Homo sapiens: one gene and its partners. The protein of the gene in region 4 purifies or fractionates together with the protein of the main gene of each other region. This does not show direct contact. Each region holds a gene or a part of one and is shown on either strand. Other genes may lie near its edges.

The links. Proteins that work in one complex are often made in the same cells at the same time.
Region 1: the proteins of ISOC1 (region 4) and PFAS fractionate together in Homo sapiens (co-fractionation; one large-scale study listed by BioGRID). This does not show direct contact.
Region 2: the proteins of ISOC1 (region 4) and UBFD1 fractionate together in Homo sapiens (co-fractionation; one large-scale study listed by BioGRID). This does not show direct contact.
Region 3: the proteins of ISOC1 (region 4) and MTHFD1L fractionate together in Homo sapiens (co-fractionation; one large-scale study listed by BioGRID). This does not show direct contact.

The regions. Positions count from the first base shown.
Region 1 is NC_000017.11:8,255,789-8,259,288, forward strand, and holds part of PFAS (phosphoribosylformylglycinamidine synthase), read left to right. Parts: intron 1-16; coding exon 17-122; intron 123-478; coding exon 479-619; intron 620-735; coding exon 736-860; intron 861-1,046; coding exon 1,047-1,175; intron 1,176-2,018; coding exon 2,019-2,150; intron 2,151-2,282; coding exon 2,283-2,411; intron 2,412-3,500. UniProt on the Homo sapiens protein: Phosphoribosylformylglycinamidine synthase involved in the purines biosynthetic pathway. Catalyzes the ATP-dependent conversion of formylglycinamide ribonucleotide (FGAR) and glutamine to yield formylglycinamidine ribonucleotide (FGAM) and glutamate.
Region 2 is NC_000016.10:23,556,322-23,560,526, forward strand, and holds the start of UBFD1 (ubiquitin domain-containing protein UBFD1), read left to right. Parts: upstream 1-1,405; 5' UTR 1,406-1,421; coding exon 1,422-1,446; intron 1,447-1,628; coding exon 1,629-1,958; intron 1,959-3,146; coding exon 3,147-3,355; intron 3,356-3,457; exon of another isoform or gene 3,458-3,547; intron 3,548-4,205. Other genes in the region: EARS2 (nondiscriminating glutamyl-tRNA synthetase EARS2, mitochondrial), read right to left, coding at 884-1,022. UniProt on the Homo sapiens protein: May play a role as NF-kappa-B regulator.
Region 3 is NC_000006.12:151,099,702-151,102,387, forward strand, and holds the end of MTHFD1L (monofunctional C1-tetrahydrofolate synthase, mitochondrial isoform 2 precursor), read left to right. Parts: exon of another isoform or gene 1-294; intron 295-1,824; 3' UTR 1,825-2,186; downstream 2,187-2,686. UniProt on the Homo sapiens protein: May provide the missing metabolic reaction required to link the mitochondria and the cytoplasm in the mammalian model of one-carbon folate metabolism complementing thus the enzymatic activities of MTHFD2.
Region 4 is NC_000005.10:129,093,249-129,097,548, forward strand, and holds the start of ISOC1 (isochorismatase domain-containing protein 1), read left to right. Parts: upstream 1-1,500; 5' UTR 1,501-1,518; coding exon 1,519-1,827; exon of another isoform or gene 1,828-2,151; intron 2,152-3,300; exon of another isoform or gene 3,301-3,531; intron 3,532-4,300.

The DNA of each region.
Region 1 (3,500 bases), on a different chromosome or scaffold from region 4:
TGGATTTGTCTCCTAGGTCTGGCTTTAGACTCTTGGGACCTAGACTTCTACACCAAGCGCTTCCAGGAGCTACAGCGGAACCCGAGCACTGTGGAGGCCTTTGACTTGGCGCAGTCCAATAGGTGAGGAGAAATGGGGTTGTTCCCATACCTGAGCCCATGGGTGTTGGGAGAGACCACAGGGGCTCACCTTCATGTTCCTCCCTTGGCTTAGGGGCCTCCCTGAGTCTCTGAGGGCCTGGGCTCCCGTCATCCATCAAGGAGTCTACATTCAAATCTTGGTTTTATCTTCACTTTGGCTCTGGATAGTCCAAAATGACAGAATACTTGAAGATTATGACTTTTTGGAATATATTTTGATCTGTCATCTAAGTATGAATTTGGCTGTAACTCTGCTGTTAAATGCTGGTGAGAAGACATGGCATTAAGAAATGACCCCGTTTCCACCTGCCTTCCCCTCCCTGCATCGCCCCCTGCAGCGAGCACAGCCGACACTGGTTCTTCAAGGGCCAGCTCCACGTGGATGGGCAGAAGCTGGTGCACTCACTGTTTGAGTCCATCATGAGCACCCAGGAATCCTCGAACCCCAACAACGTCCTCAAATTCTGTGATAACAGCAGGTGCTGTGCCCTAGACTGGGTTGGCGTCAGGACCCGGGGAGGGGAGGCCCCAGGCCCTGGTTGGGTTAGTGTAGGTCCCAGAAAGGAAGCAAGGTCCATGACGGGTATGTCCACAGTGCAATCCAGGGAAAGGAAGTCCGATTCCTACGGCCTGAGGACCCCACACGGCCAAGCCGCTTCCAGCAACAGCAAGGGCTGAGACATGTTGTCTTCACAGCAGAGACTCACAACTTTCCCACAGGTGAGCTGGGTTCCCTGGAGAAATAGGTGAGATCACAGAATAGGGTAGGGCAAAGGTCCCAGGCCCCTGGAGTGGGCCTGGGGAAAATAATCAGGGAAATTGGTTGTCCTTATTTTCAGTGGGGGTGGTCAGAGATGGGGGTTTGTCTCTGAGGCACCCAGACCTCTCCCCACTCTCTCTTTGCAGGAGTATGCCCCTTTAGTGGTGCAACCACTGGCACAGGGGGCCGGATTCGAGATGTCCAGTGCACAGGCCGCGGGGCCCACGTGGTGGCTGGCACTGCCGGCTATTGCTTTGGAAATCTGCATATTCCAGGTTCCATCTCCTTCCTCTCTATCCACCTTCCCTTCCAGATTCCTTGTCCTGGCAGGCAGCAAACTTCTATCTGTTAGGTCCATAGGGTTATCCTGTGTGCCTTTTCTCAGGAGGAAGGGCTCTAGGATAGCTGGCCTTTCACTAACTATGGTCATAAGTGTAGACCTGGGGAGATGAGGTGGCCAGACTGCTTTTGCAGGTCTACGATTTTCTTTAAAAACTAGCCTTCATTCAGCCAGAAAGCATGATATTGGGTTGGTCTTATGATCAGTACCTGCCCCTCAAATCTGGTTTCTTAGCCTGAGAAACTTGGCTGGGCGTGGTGGCTCACGCCTGTAATCCCAGCACTTTGGGAGGCTGAGGTGGGCGGATCACAAGGTCAGGAGATCAAAACCATCCTGGCTAACACGGTGAAACCCCGTCTCTACTAAAAATACAAAAAATTAGCTGGGCGTGGTGGCGGGCGCCTATAGTCCCAGCTACTCAGGAGGCTGAGGCGAGAGAATGGCGTGAACCCGGGAGGCGGAGCTTTCAGTGAGCCAAGATCACGCCACTGCACGCTAGCCTGGGTGATAGAGCGAGACTCCATCTCAAAAAAAAAAACAGAAAGCCTGTGTAACTCTGATTGCGAGATTCAGAGGGAAGGCTGGTGTGGGTGGTGGAAAGAAGACCAGTGCCTCACTGCAGGCTCTAGGGCTTCCTAAAGCAGGACTTCCTGAAGTGGAACATTGCAACCATGCAGGTGGTCCTTGGTGGCCTTGACTCTTCCTGAAGGATGCAGGCTGCTCCGGCCTGTCTTCACAGTTCATTCAGTTCATCCAGTTCTCTCTCCTTCCCTCCCAGGTTACAATCTGCCCTGGGAGGATCCAAGCTTCCAGTATCCTGGGAATTTTGCCCGGCCCCTGGAGGTTGCCATTGAAGCCAGTAATGGAGCTTCTGACTATGGCAACAAGTTTGGGGAACCAGTGCTGGCTGGTGAGGCTGGGGTGTGGAGGGATGACAAACACCCAGAGGGGCTTGTGGGTGGGGTGTGCGACCCAGGGGCTGTGCTATTGGGCGAGCACTGGGGGAACTGAGTGACAGGTCCCTCTGATGTTCACACTCCAGGCTTCGCCCGCTCCTTGGGCCTCCAGCTCCCAGACGGCCAGCGGCGTGAGTGGATCAAGCCCATCATGTTTAGTGGGGGCATTGGGTCCATGGAAGCTGACCACATAAGCAAGGAGGCCCCAGAGCCAGGTAAGAGCCTGCCACCTTTCTCTGGATCCAGCCAGCTTTCTCCCCAGCACAGGATGGCTACAGGGAGGGAACTTAGGGAACACTTCAGTGGTTAGTTTTTAATATGTTGGCTTATCTTATGTGTCACATAATGATGGACAACTCATTCTGAGAAATGTGGCTATTAGGTAATTTCATTATTGTGCCCACTTCATAGACTGTACATACACAAACCTAGATGGCATAGCCTGCTACACGATCCACACAGCCTCTTACTGGCAATATTATCCAGGAATTTTGTACACTTGGGAGCCATGATGAACAAAACAGCATGAGAATAAAATAAGCACAAGAGAAAATAATGCAATCAAGACGTGGTGGGCCAGGCAGGGTGGCTCGCACCTGTAATCTCAGCACTTTGGGAGACTGAGACAGGTGGATCACCTGAGATCAGGAGTTCAAGACCAGCCTGACCAACATGCTGAAACCCTGTTGCTACTAAAAACACAAAAATTAGCCAGGCATCTGCCGGGCATGGTGGCTCATGCCTGTAATCCCAACACTTTGGGAGGCTGAGGTGGGCAGATCACGAGGTCAGGAGATCGAGACCATCCTGGCTAACACGGTGAAACCCCGTCTCTACTAAAAAAATAAAAAAATTAGCCAGGTGTGGTGGCGGGCACCTGTAGTCCCAGCTACTCGGAGGCTGAGGCAGGAGAATGACGTGAACCCAGGAGGTGGAGCTTGCAGTGAGCTGAGATCCCACCACTGCACTCCAGCCTGGGCGACAGATGGAGACTCCATCTCAAAAAAAAAAAAAAAAAAATTACCCAGGCGTCATGGTGCATGCCTATAGTCCCAGCCTCCTGAGGCACAAGAACCACTTGAAGCTGGGAGGTGGAGGTTGCAGTGAGTGGAGATCGCACCACTGCGATCGCACCACTGTCAAAAAAAAAAAAAAAGACGTGGTAAATATGAGATAATATGAAGCTACTGTCAATGTAACATGGCATACCGTTTTTAGGTAAACTTTTTTTTCTCTTTTTTGTTAATTATTATTATTTTTAATCTGCATTTTCTTTCTCAAGTCAGATTTTTTTTCTCTTTTTA
Region 2 (4,205 bases), on a different chromosome or scaffold from region 4:
TTGGTACCTGCGATTTCCTCTACCCAGAAGGTTCCTTCTTTTTTGTTTTTGAGACACAGTTTCGCTCTTGTTGCCCAGGCTGGAGTGCAATGGCGCGATCTTGGCTCACCGCAATCTCCACCTCCTGCGTTCAAGCGATTCTCCTGCCTCAGCCTCCCAAGTAGCTGGGATTACAGGCATGCGCCACCATGCCCAGATAATTTTGTATTTTTAGTAGAGACAGGGCTTCACCATGTTGGTCAGACGGCTCTCAAGTGATCCACTTGACCTCAAGTGATGCACCCACCTCTGCCTCCCAAAGTGCTGGGATTACAAGCGTGAGCCACCGCGCCTGGCCTCCAGAAGGTTCCTTCTATAGGCTTCACATAGCGTGCTCCTTCTTGTCATTTGGATCTCAGCTCAAATGTTACCTGCTCAGTAAAGCCTTCTGGAGCGTCCTTCTTAATCCCCAGTCTCCTATCCTGTTTCACTTCCCGCATGGCACATGTGACTCTAAAATTACACTTATTTTTTATAAGTGTCTGCGGCAGCCACTAGAATGCAGACTTCCACAGAGCAAGGCCCCTACCTTTCTCAATGATCACTGTATCCCAGCGTCTACAACACCTGTTACACAGGTTGTCATCAATGCACATGTATGGAATGCATGAAAAAAAGATCGAAAGAGATGGGATGGCACAAAAAACACAAGAAACTCCTGGCAATTTGAATTATTTCCGCTCCTGCACCTCAGTTTCCGCCTCTGTAAAATGGGCTCGCGCTGCCTTAACCCTCCTCCGCCCGCCCACTCTGACACCACCGGAAAGGATTCATTCGGGAACATTCGTGGGGCGGAGACGGGACAGGGGGCCTCGGCCTGTAGCGTCACGTCCGCCAGGGTTACCTGTGGGGCTGGGAGCGAACCGCACTCGCACCGCAACCCCGGCATCAGTGCCCAGGTTGGCCTCGCGCCGTCCTACGGGGCGGCCAGAGGCCGCCGAAGGCCTCTCGCGCTGCAGCAGTCTCCTCAGGAGCGCCGCCATGTGGGATGGAATAGCACACGTGGGCTTCTCCCTGCGTCACTTCCGGGGACTGCTTCCAGCCAATCGGCCTCCGCCACAGCCAGCGCAGCCTTGCCCCTTAAAGTCACAGGCCCCCTAGCGCGAAATCCCACGCCCCCCTGGACGGCTGCGGCCGCACTCGCCACCAGGGGGCAGAGGCCAGAGAAAGGGCTATTTCCCGGACCCGCCCCCTTCAGCTTGGGAAAGCGAAAGCGTGGCAGGGGCCGGACCTGGGAGCGGAGGAGGCGGGTCTCCATAGAAACCTCCACCTGTTTCCGGCCGGGCTGTGAGAGATTAGGGGCTGCTGCGGGGGCCAATCTCAGCCAGCTCGCCTCTTCCCAGCGGCCTCTGCGGGAGCGGTGGGTGTTGTACACAATCATCATGGCGGCGGCCGGGGCCCCGGATGGTGAGTGCGGCGGGGGTGGCGGGCGCCGGGCCGGGGCTGAGGTTGCGGTCGCTCCTCTGGGGGATGCGGCCCGGCCCGGGAGGGAGAACCGCGGCTCGGGAACGGAGGTCCGGCGGCGCCCGGACAGCGTCCGTTCCCAAGCCCAGCCCGCGGCGAGCGCCCACCCCCTAACCCCCTTGCAGGCATGGAGGAACCTGGCATGGACACGGAGGCCGAGACTGTGGCTACTGAGGCTCCCGCGCGGCCCGTCAACTGCCTGGAGGCTGAAGCCGCGGCGGGGGCGGCGGCCGAGGACTCCGGCGCCGCACGAGGCAGCCTGCAGCCGGCCCCGGCCCAGCCCCCTGGGGACCCCGCAGCCCAGGCCTCGGTCAGCAACGGCGAAGACGCGGGCGGCGGCGCGGGCAGGGAGCTGGTGGACTTGAAGATCATCTGGAATAAGACCAAGCATGACGTGAAGTTCCCCCTGGACAGCACAGGCTCCGAGCTGAAACAGAAGATCCACTCGATTACAGGTAATTCCTGTGGCGCTGACAGCCAGTCTTCCCCACCCCGCCTCCTGATGGCCCTTGCACCCTACTAGGCACCTGGTGGCTTTCCTTGCATCAGGTCCCCCCATCCTTACAGCAGTCTTCTGAAGGATACTTGGATGCCCATTACTCAGCTGGGGAAAGAGACTCAAGTTTATAGAGCTAGTAAGTTGCAGAGCTGGGATTAAAGCCGAAGTCTGACGTTTAGGCCCCAGTTTCTCATTGATGTTGCTCTAACATCTCTAATTAAAAAATCACCTAAGGCGCTTGTTTTACAGCTTCTGGGCCCTTTCCCAGGAGATTCTGATTCAGTGGGTCTGGGATGTAGCCAGGAATTTATTTTTAGCAAATATCTTAGGTAATTCTTCTAAGTGAAGTTTAGGAAACGCTGCTATTGACTTTGATGCTGGTTCTTCACAGTCGATTCTGTTTCTTAATTTTACCTTGTTCATAGCTCTTTGCCATCTGAGATTTCTTTTCTTTTTCCTATTTTTTTTTTTTTTTGAGACGGAGTCTTGCTCTGTTGCCCAGGCTGGAGTGTACTGGCACCATCTTGGCTCACTGCAGCCTCCGCCTCCCAGGTTCAAGCGATTCTCCTGCCTCAGCCTCCCGAGTAGCTGGGATTACAGGTGCCCGCTACCCCGCCGGGCTAGTTTTTTTTATTTTATCCACCCACCTCGGCCTCCCGAAGTGCTGGGATTACAGGCATAAGCCATCACTCCTGGCCTTGAACTTTTTTTTTTTTTTAAAGCTTTCTACATGTAGCCTTGTAATCTCCATTAAGAACAGGAGTTTTGTCCCTATTGGCTTCTGTAGCTCTGATGCCTGTGGATTCTCACTTAATATGTGAATGATTTAGATGACTGAGGAACAACTTGGAAAGAATGAGAGCTAGTACTTACTGAACAATTATTCAATGCTAGCCACCGTACTAAATGCCCCGCATTGGTCTCTTAATCCTTGAAACAGGTCTGTACAGAAGGACTTACTCTAATAAATCTTCTACAGTTCTAGAAACTGAGGTTCAGAGGTTGTAAATCTCCCAAGTTCACAAAGCTAATAGGTGGTGGAGGCAGTATTCACTTTTTGGTCTGTTACCAAAGAGCTGTGTAGTATCCATACATTTTTCTGTCCTTCCTTCCTTTCACTGTCCACCTTCTACCTTTTCCCAAGGTCTCCCGCCTGCCATGCAGAAAGTCATGTATAAGGGACTCGTCCCCGAGGATAAAACATTGAGAGAAATAAAAGTGACCAGTGGGGCCAAGATCATGGTGGTTGGCTCCACCATCAATGATGTTTTAGCAGTAAACACACCCAAAGATGCTGCGCAGCAGGATGCAAAGGCCGAAGAGAACAAGAAGGAGCCTCTCTGCAGGCAGAAAGTGAGTCCATCTTGTGCTTCTTGGTCTTGAGAAATTTGAGGCTTTGTCCTCTTGAGCCGTGGCTGGTTATATTCTCCCTAGAATAAGCTCCTTTTTGGACAGGGCCCATGATGGAAATTTATGGCAGCAGTTGGGTGCCGCAGAGTGGAGGTGACAACTACCTGAGATTTGCAACTTTGTCTCATCTGGCGGGTCAGTGTGTCTCAAGTCTACCTACTTTAGGATAAGACCTTGGTAAAGGGAGGCTTCAGACCATGTGTTGAAAGGAATCAGACGTGGGTTTCTCTCTCTTATTTAGTGCCAGAGAAAACTACCAGTACTAGAAGTAAGCCCTCATTTTGTACAAGTGCTTACATTTGGCTTTTTGGTTTGTGGCTTTCCCCAAGTCAACAAGCCTGGCTAGGCATGGAAATCAACAACTCTCGGAGGTTCCCCTAAAGCTGACCGTTTCAGGAAGCTAAATGAAGCTGAGTAGGAAGACAACTACACTGATGGATTTGTTTATTTATTTTTTTGTCCTGATCTGTGAAATAGGAGCTTGGTTTTTTACGTTCTCTGTTCTTTTGGCTGCAAGAGATCCTGCCTTGTCTTGTGCTCATCATAGCCATTAACATTCTTTCACGTAACGAGGAAAAGTGAGATTATTTTACTATGGAAGGAACAGGTTGTAAGAATCATTACTTGTTATCTTTTTACCTGGCAAATTATACTGATTGCTGTGTAGCCTCCTGATCGTTCTTCCTAGTGTTCCAAGGAAGACAGGTATTCTCAACTGTGTCTGAAGTAGAGTAGATAAACTTCAATCAACATCATTTAGTGACCATAGACACTAAGATATATGACCAACAGT
Region 3 (2,686 bases), on a different chromosome or scaffold from region 4:
TTATGGGAGCAACAAAAAAACAAAGCACATGCTGCCCAGTGGCTTCCGGAAGTTCCTGGTCCACAACGTCAAGGAGCTGGAAGTGCTGCTGATGTGCAACAATCGTACTTGTGCCGAGATCGCTCACAATGTTTCCTCCAAGAACCGCAAAGCCATCGTGGAAAGAGCTGCCCAACTGGCCATCACAGTCACCAACCCCAGTGCCAGGCTGTGCAGCGAAGAAAATGAGTAGACAGCTCGTGTGCACATTTTCTGTTTAAATAAATGTAAAAACAGCCATCTGGCATCTTCCTTTAAAAAAAAAGAAAAGAAAGAAATATTTTCTTTCTTTTCTTTTTTTTTTTTTTTTTGAGACGCAGTCTCGCTCTGTCACCCAGGCTGAAGTGCAGTGGCACGATCTCGGCTCACTGCAAGCTCCGCCTCCCGGGTTCACGCCATTCTCCTGCCTCAACCTCCAGAGTAGCTGGGACTACAGGCACCTGCCACCACGCCCAGCTAATTTTTTTGTATTTTTTTAATAGACACGGGGTTTCACCGTGTTAGACAGGATGGTCTTGATCTCCTGACCTCGTGATCCACCCGTGAGCCACCGCGCCTGGCCTGAAATATTTTATTTTTGTTCATCTTTGTTGTGCTTATAATACTCCTGTTTTCTGTTTATTCCCCTGACTTGAACCAGATGTTAGGGGAGTATTTGAAGCTCCTCGTTCCCTCTCTTCATCAATATCTTCTGTCTAGAAACTAACCAAGCACCTTATCTGGCTCCAGACCTCTCAGTGATCTGTGGGAGGCCAACTCGCAGGATTTCAGCAGAGTTTGCACTTTCTAGGCCTAAAAGATAAGTCCTTCCATGTGTAAGTTCAGATTAAAGGCAACATATTGCATTTACATTTTAGAGAGGTGAACACATTATTTTCTGGGACTTAAGTGTTGTTTTGTTTCTTTTTTTTTTTTTTAATGTAGTTTATTTCTCTTTCTAAGAGATTACAGGATTCAAGAATGGCAATGAATCTTAATAGCCTTTGGGAGAAAGCAGCAAAGCTTTAATACTAAGTTCCAGGACCATGAACTTCCATGTTGTCCTAAATGCATTTTTCAAACATTGCTTTCTGTGCCTACTCTATAAAACCTAAAAATCCAAGGTGACAGTATTCCTTATCTAAAATCCTAAACAAGGCTGGGCGTGGTGGTTCATACCTGTAATCCCAGCACTTTGGGAGGACAAGGCAGGCGGATCACTTGAGCCCAGGAGTTCAAGACCAGCCTGGCCAACGTGGTGAAACCTCGTCTTTACTAAAAATACAAAAATTAGCCGGGCATGGTGGTGCACACTTGTAATCCCAGCTACTCCGGAGGCTGTGGCGGGAGGATTGCTTGAACCCGGGAGACGGAGGTTGCAGTGAGCCGAGATCTCGCCACTACACTCCAGCCTGGGCGACAAAGTGAGACTCTGTCTCAAAAAATTAAAAAAAAATTTTTTTAAATCCTAAATATTCTCATTCCACAGGATCCTGCAAACTGTAGATCCCAAACTTGGAAGTTCTGGGAATTCTGCCAGTATCCCCAAGTAAATCTCTTGGGAAGTTTAGAATGCTGCATGGCGTAGCTGTGCCTGCTCTTATAGAGTGGTGCAGACTCTGCTTCTCCACGTCTGCTAAGTAAAATATTCCAAACACAGATCAGCCTTATCTAGCGAACCATCACTCTGCTCTTGAATTTTCTTTTGGCCTCAAACTCTAGAGCTATAACATGTTAACGGTTTAACACCAGAGGAGAAAGCTATTCTTAAACTACTCAAACATGGTTTTTTTTTCTATTTTTCAGACTCCTGAAACAGACTACTCTTTGCCTTTTTGCTGCAGTTGGAGAAGAAACTGAATTTGAAAAATGTCTGTTATGCAATGCTGGAGACATGGTGAAATAGGCCAAAGATTTCTTCTTCGTTCAAGATGAATTCTGTTCACAGTGGAGTATGGTGTTCGGCAAAAGGACCTCCACCAAGACTGAAAGAAACTAATTTATTTCTGTTTCTGTGGAGTTTCCATTATTTCTACTGCTTACACTTTAGAATGTTTATTTTATGGGGACTAAGGGATTAGGAGTGTGAACTAAAAGGTAACATTTTCCACTCTCAAGTTTTCTACTTTGTCTTTGAACTGAAAATAAACATGGATCTAGAAAACCAACCAGCAAGTTTTCAGTGCCAGATAAAACTCTGCGCTCTAGAGGTAACTCCTCATGGGAGGCAGCTAGGAGTGTTACCTGACACCAGTTTCCTAGAAAACTGTGACAAGCAAAGCAATAACACACGTCGAGAAATATCTGATCAAGCGGGAAATCTTCTGACTGTCGGGGATCTCTAGTAAGATCTCTTGGAATGAAGTGCACTGTGTATCCAAAACTATTTTCCAGCGCCAGTGAAGTTGCTCTTACCTAAAACAAATGGGTTTATGCTAGTTTCCACCAAGGAATGAGTCTCGATGGCCATTAAACTTTCTAAGGCCCACAGGGCTAGGAAAAGTCGCTCTTAAAGGTCAGGTGTTTGGAAAATGTTTTTCCTTTTGCCCAACCCTTAATTAGTAGTAGAGAATGTTCTGTGGCCTATTCCCCTCTCTGGGAGTTCCTGACCCTTCTTTGTTTTCCAGTTTTTCCTACAATAATATAAAATTACGTAAAAGTTAAAACA
Region 4 (4,300 bases):
CCACCCAAAATAGGTAGGTACCTTTTGGTAATCAGGTCTTGAGGGGGTACACTTATTAGCACAAATCAGCATATCTGCATATAGAAGACCTTGCAATGGAGTGGTATCCGGAAAAAAATATCATTTTGGGTCTGACGGGTTCAGACAACACTTTTAAATGGGATCTCTCAAAGTGTGATGAGAACCAGAAAAAAATGGCTATTTCTAGTAGCTTCGGTACAATTGAGCAAGAAACACCAAAGGATGGTCTTTTCATAACTTTAAAGCAGTGTGGTTCTCAAGTAGGGGGTATATTTGCCCTCTGGGGAATATTTGGCAATGTCTGGAAACATTTTTGATTGCCATAACTAGAGGGAGGAGCGGTCACTAGGCATCTAGCGGGAGTAGAAGCCGGTGATGCTGCTAAATATCCTGCAAATGCACAAGATGCCCCATCCCCAAGAAAGAGAAATGTCCATTCCAGAAGTCAACAGTGTCAGTTGGGAAACCCTGCTTTAAAGGTTATTTTCTTAGAAGAGGACAGCTTTAATACCTAAAATCTAATTTTATGTTTAGGCCCATGCCTATCTTCGCAGGACTCAATTCCAAGGAAATTCTGTTCATAATGCATGCTTTCTAATTCCAGTTAATTATAGCGCCTTACAGTGTGCAGAAGGCAGAGGATTGTTTTATTTGAAAGTGATCCCTTTTACTTACTTAAAAACAGATATCCTTAGTTTCAATATAAAGTTCAGATTTTTGCTTTTAATAGTATTTATATTCCCAAATCCAAGTCCTCCCAGAAATAGGTTGAGATGAAGGGAGGCCAGATATCAAATCCATTCCTAGAGATATTGTGTTCTGTGGGACCGAAAAAAGACAAAACTTGAACCTTGACTGGCCCTCTAAGGATTAAATTCTGCTGCTCTTCTTAGGGTATCTATCGGACTGTCCCTTTGGTTGTAAGATACCACTGCCATCTCGAGGAGGACTGCATGCTTCTGCACAGAGCCAACAGGTAACTCGTCCTGGCGGCTCTGTGTACCCAACCACAACCCTAGACTGCCAAGAACACTGCTCATTCGAAGGCGAGCGAAGCCGCGAAGAGGGCCAGCGTTAGGGGAAGGGTGGTACAAACCCTTGTGTGAGCTGCAGCACCGGGGCAAGAACAACGGGCAGCCCAGGCGGGTCTTGGGTCTGCGAGACCACTAGGCGTTCTGCCGGCAGTCAGAACCGCGGCAGAAAGGGCGCGAGCGGGGAACTGCGGGAACGCAGCGGCCCGGGAAGCTGGAGGGGGCGGACCCGGCCGGCGAGCGCAGGCGCTCCCTGGCTCACGCGCGCACCCCGGCCCCACCACCCACCCTTACGCCGCGGCCCGCCCTCCGGGGCGGGTAAGAGAGCGCGCGAGCAGCGGTCGTCAGGACACGCCCCTTCGCCTCCGCGAGCTGGCGGGCGGGCTGGCATCGCCGGGAGGCGGGGCCGCGGCAGCCGGCTGGGTGCGACTGGGCGGCCTCGGAGCTCGCAGACGCTCGGGGGAACATGGCGGCTGCGGAGCCGGCGGTCCTTGCGCTCCCCAACAGCGGCGCCGGGGGCGCGGGGGCGCCGTCGGGCACAGTCCCGGTGCTCTTCTGTTTCTCAGTCTTCGCGCGACCCTCGTCGGTGCCACACGGGGCGGGCTACGAGCTGCTCATCCAGAAGTTCCTCAGCCTGTACGGCGACCAGATCGACATGCACCGCAAATTCGTGGTGCAGCTGTTCGCCGAGGAGTGGGGCCAGTACGTGGACTTGCCCAAGGGCTTCGCGGTGAGCGAGCGCTGCAAGGTGCGCCTCGTGCCGTTGCAGATCCAGGTGGGTCCTGCGGGAGGCCGCGCGCTTCCCTGTTCCCGAGTCGTCCCCGTCCCCGTCCCTGTCCCCGCCTTCGCCGCGCTCCTCAGGTGCCCCGAGCCGCCCGGGACCCGGGCCCTGCGCGAGTGGCTGAGTCCGAAGGGCTGCGCGTCTTTCGCAAGTTCCGGGGCCGGCTGGGGAATGCCCCTGTCCAAAGGTGATGGTCACCAGCTGTCCCCGGCGGGGGCGTGGGCCTCGTAGCTGGTTTCAGCGCCCGCGAACGCCCCCACGTGTGTGGTCCTCGGTCGCCCGCATCCGCTTTTTATGCCAGGATCAGGTCCCAGCCTCCTGCGTAACCAAAGGGCTGTGCTGTAGTAGCTGTTTTTATTTTGGGGTGATGGGTGATGCAGAATGGGGGGAAATGAGATTGTGGGGAGTATTGGTCTTAGGGTTTGTTCCTAGAGTTGTGTTAACCACTTGCGGAAACGCAAACTTTGGGAGTCAAACCCATTCCCCCCCGCCTTCCCAGGCTCTCAGGTCCTTGGGCTTAAGAGTTCCCTAACCTTAAGCAAATAACCATTTGCTTAGCCTCCTCTTAGTAAAGTGTCTACTGACTTGATTACGTTTTGTCGTCTGCATTGAAAAAGTCATTTGACTCCATGATTGTAATTCCTTCTTGAATACAAATACCCAACTTAAGCTAGACCTTGAGTTCCTGGGCCTGCTGGCTGGGAAAGTTGTTCTACCTGAGGACTACTTAACAGCATTTATTTTAAGCTGTGCTCTCATGCTAGGCGGGTTAATCTTCCGCCCTCTTTAGGATCAGATTGTTCACTGGCGAATTTATATTTTGGAAAGGAAAGAATATAAGGTATAATTTAGGTAGTACACTGTCGATATCATTTCTTTAGCTGAGAAACTGATAAGTCATTTTTTCAGAAGACCAAACTGAAATGTGGGATTCGGGGATAAAAGGTATTTTAATATTTAAGTGTCATTTTCTTTCTTTTTTGTTTTTAGTTTTTATGGGCACATAATAGTTGTACATATTTATAGGAGACGTGATATTTTGATTCAAGCATACAGTGTAGTGATCAAATCAGGGTAATTGGAATATCCATTACCTGAAACATTTATCATTTATTTCTTTGTTCCAAATTCATTTTTGTAGTTATTTTGAAATATACAATAAATTATTGTTAACTATAGTCACGCTATTGTGCTACTGAACACTAGAGCTTATTCCTATTATCTGTGTTTTTTGTACCCATTAACAGTGCCATTTTCTGAGGATTATTCCCTAGTTTTTTTCCGCTGTAGTTGGCAGCTGAATTGATGATGTTTCCTGTCACCCCAACACCTGTGCCAGAAGTGTCCAAAGCAGGTACTTTAGCTTCGATAAAGTTCCTGCATTCAGAGGACAAAGTCAGAGACTGCACTCTCTGCCAGTGGAGAACCTGGAACTGGATACAGTGATCTGATACCCCAGAATCTTACCTGCTGCTCAGATAGGGAATTGCAGTTCTTAGGTGCTTAAGACTCCTCATTTTTATGTCTTCAAGCGTTTTCGTGTCTGACACCTCTCTGCAGCCTTCCTTGTCAGTCCTTTTACGTTACTGCTGCCAGAATACTCAGATGTTGGATGCACCTTTGAGAAGTCCATTTATAAAGGCTAGAATCCAAATACTAACTGCGGAGGTCTGGGACTAAGGATGCAGACTTCTTTATGAAGCATTTCCTGTTACGGCTTGGAGGGAGGCTGGGCTCTTATCTAAGATAATGCTATTCTAAACTAGGCCCCAGCTCTGTAAGAGTCCCCGCCTTCCAAGATAGGATTTTTATATTTGAAAATTTCAGGGCCTTGGTCTGGCAACTCTTAAAAACATTCTAGAAATTAATGAAATGTATGTACCTGAAAACGCTTGTACATTCTCAAAAGGCGTTATATAATTCTGGTCACCTGTAGCTTTTGCAGTGTTTTGCTTGGTATAGGAGATTATGTATAGTTCACTTTTTTTTGGTGAGGTTTAAAATAACAATAGCATTACTCTACTCCCTCTTCAGAAGAAATTTTTCCGCCAACTAGTCTAATAATTCTTAAGCATTAGTTATATTTTTGCATTTATATAGCTTTATATTTTTAATTCTTTAAAAATATTTTCTCTTCTATATTATCTCATTTTAGTAGTTATACTTTGACTTCTTCAGCCTGATGCCTCTCCTAGCTTAGAGGTAGATAAAGGAAGGGGATAGATACATAAATATGCACACACTGTGTATCGTATATACCTTCTGATACCGATTTATGTCTATATGAGAAGAGAGAGATATATATACACACATACATATATATGCATATGTGTGTATAATCTCAGAAAGTCATGATATTTCTCATGACTACTGTACACTATATTCTTTGGAACCTAACAGCATAATCCTAGAGACTTGGATGTTTTATGGCTGTAAGAGACCATACAGTTCATTCCACAACATGTGA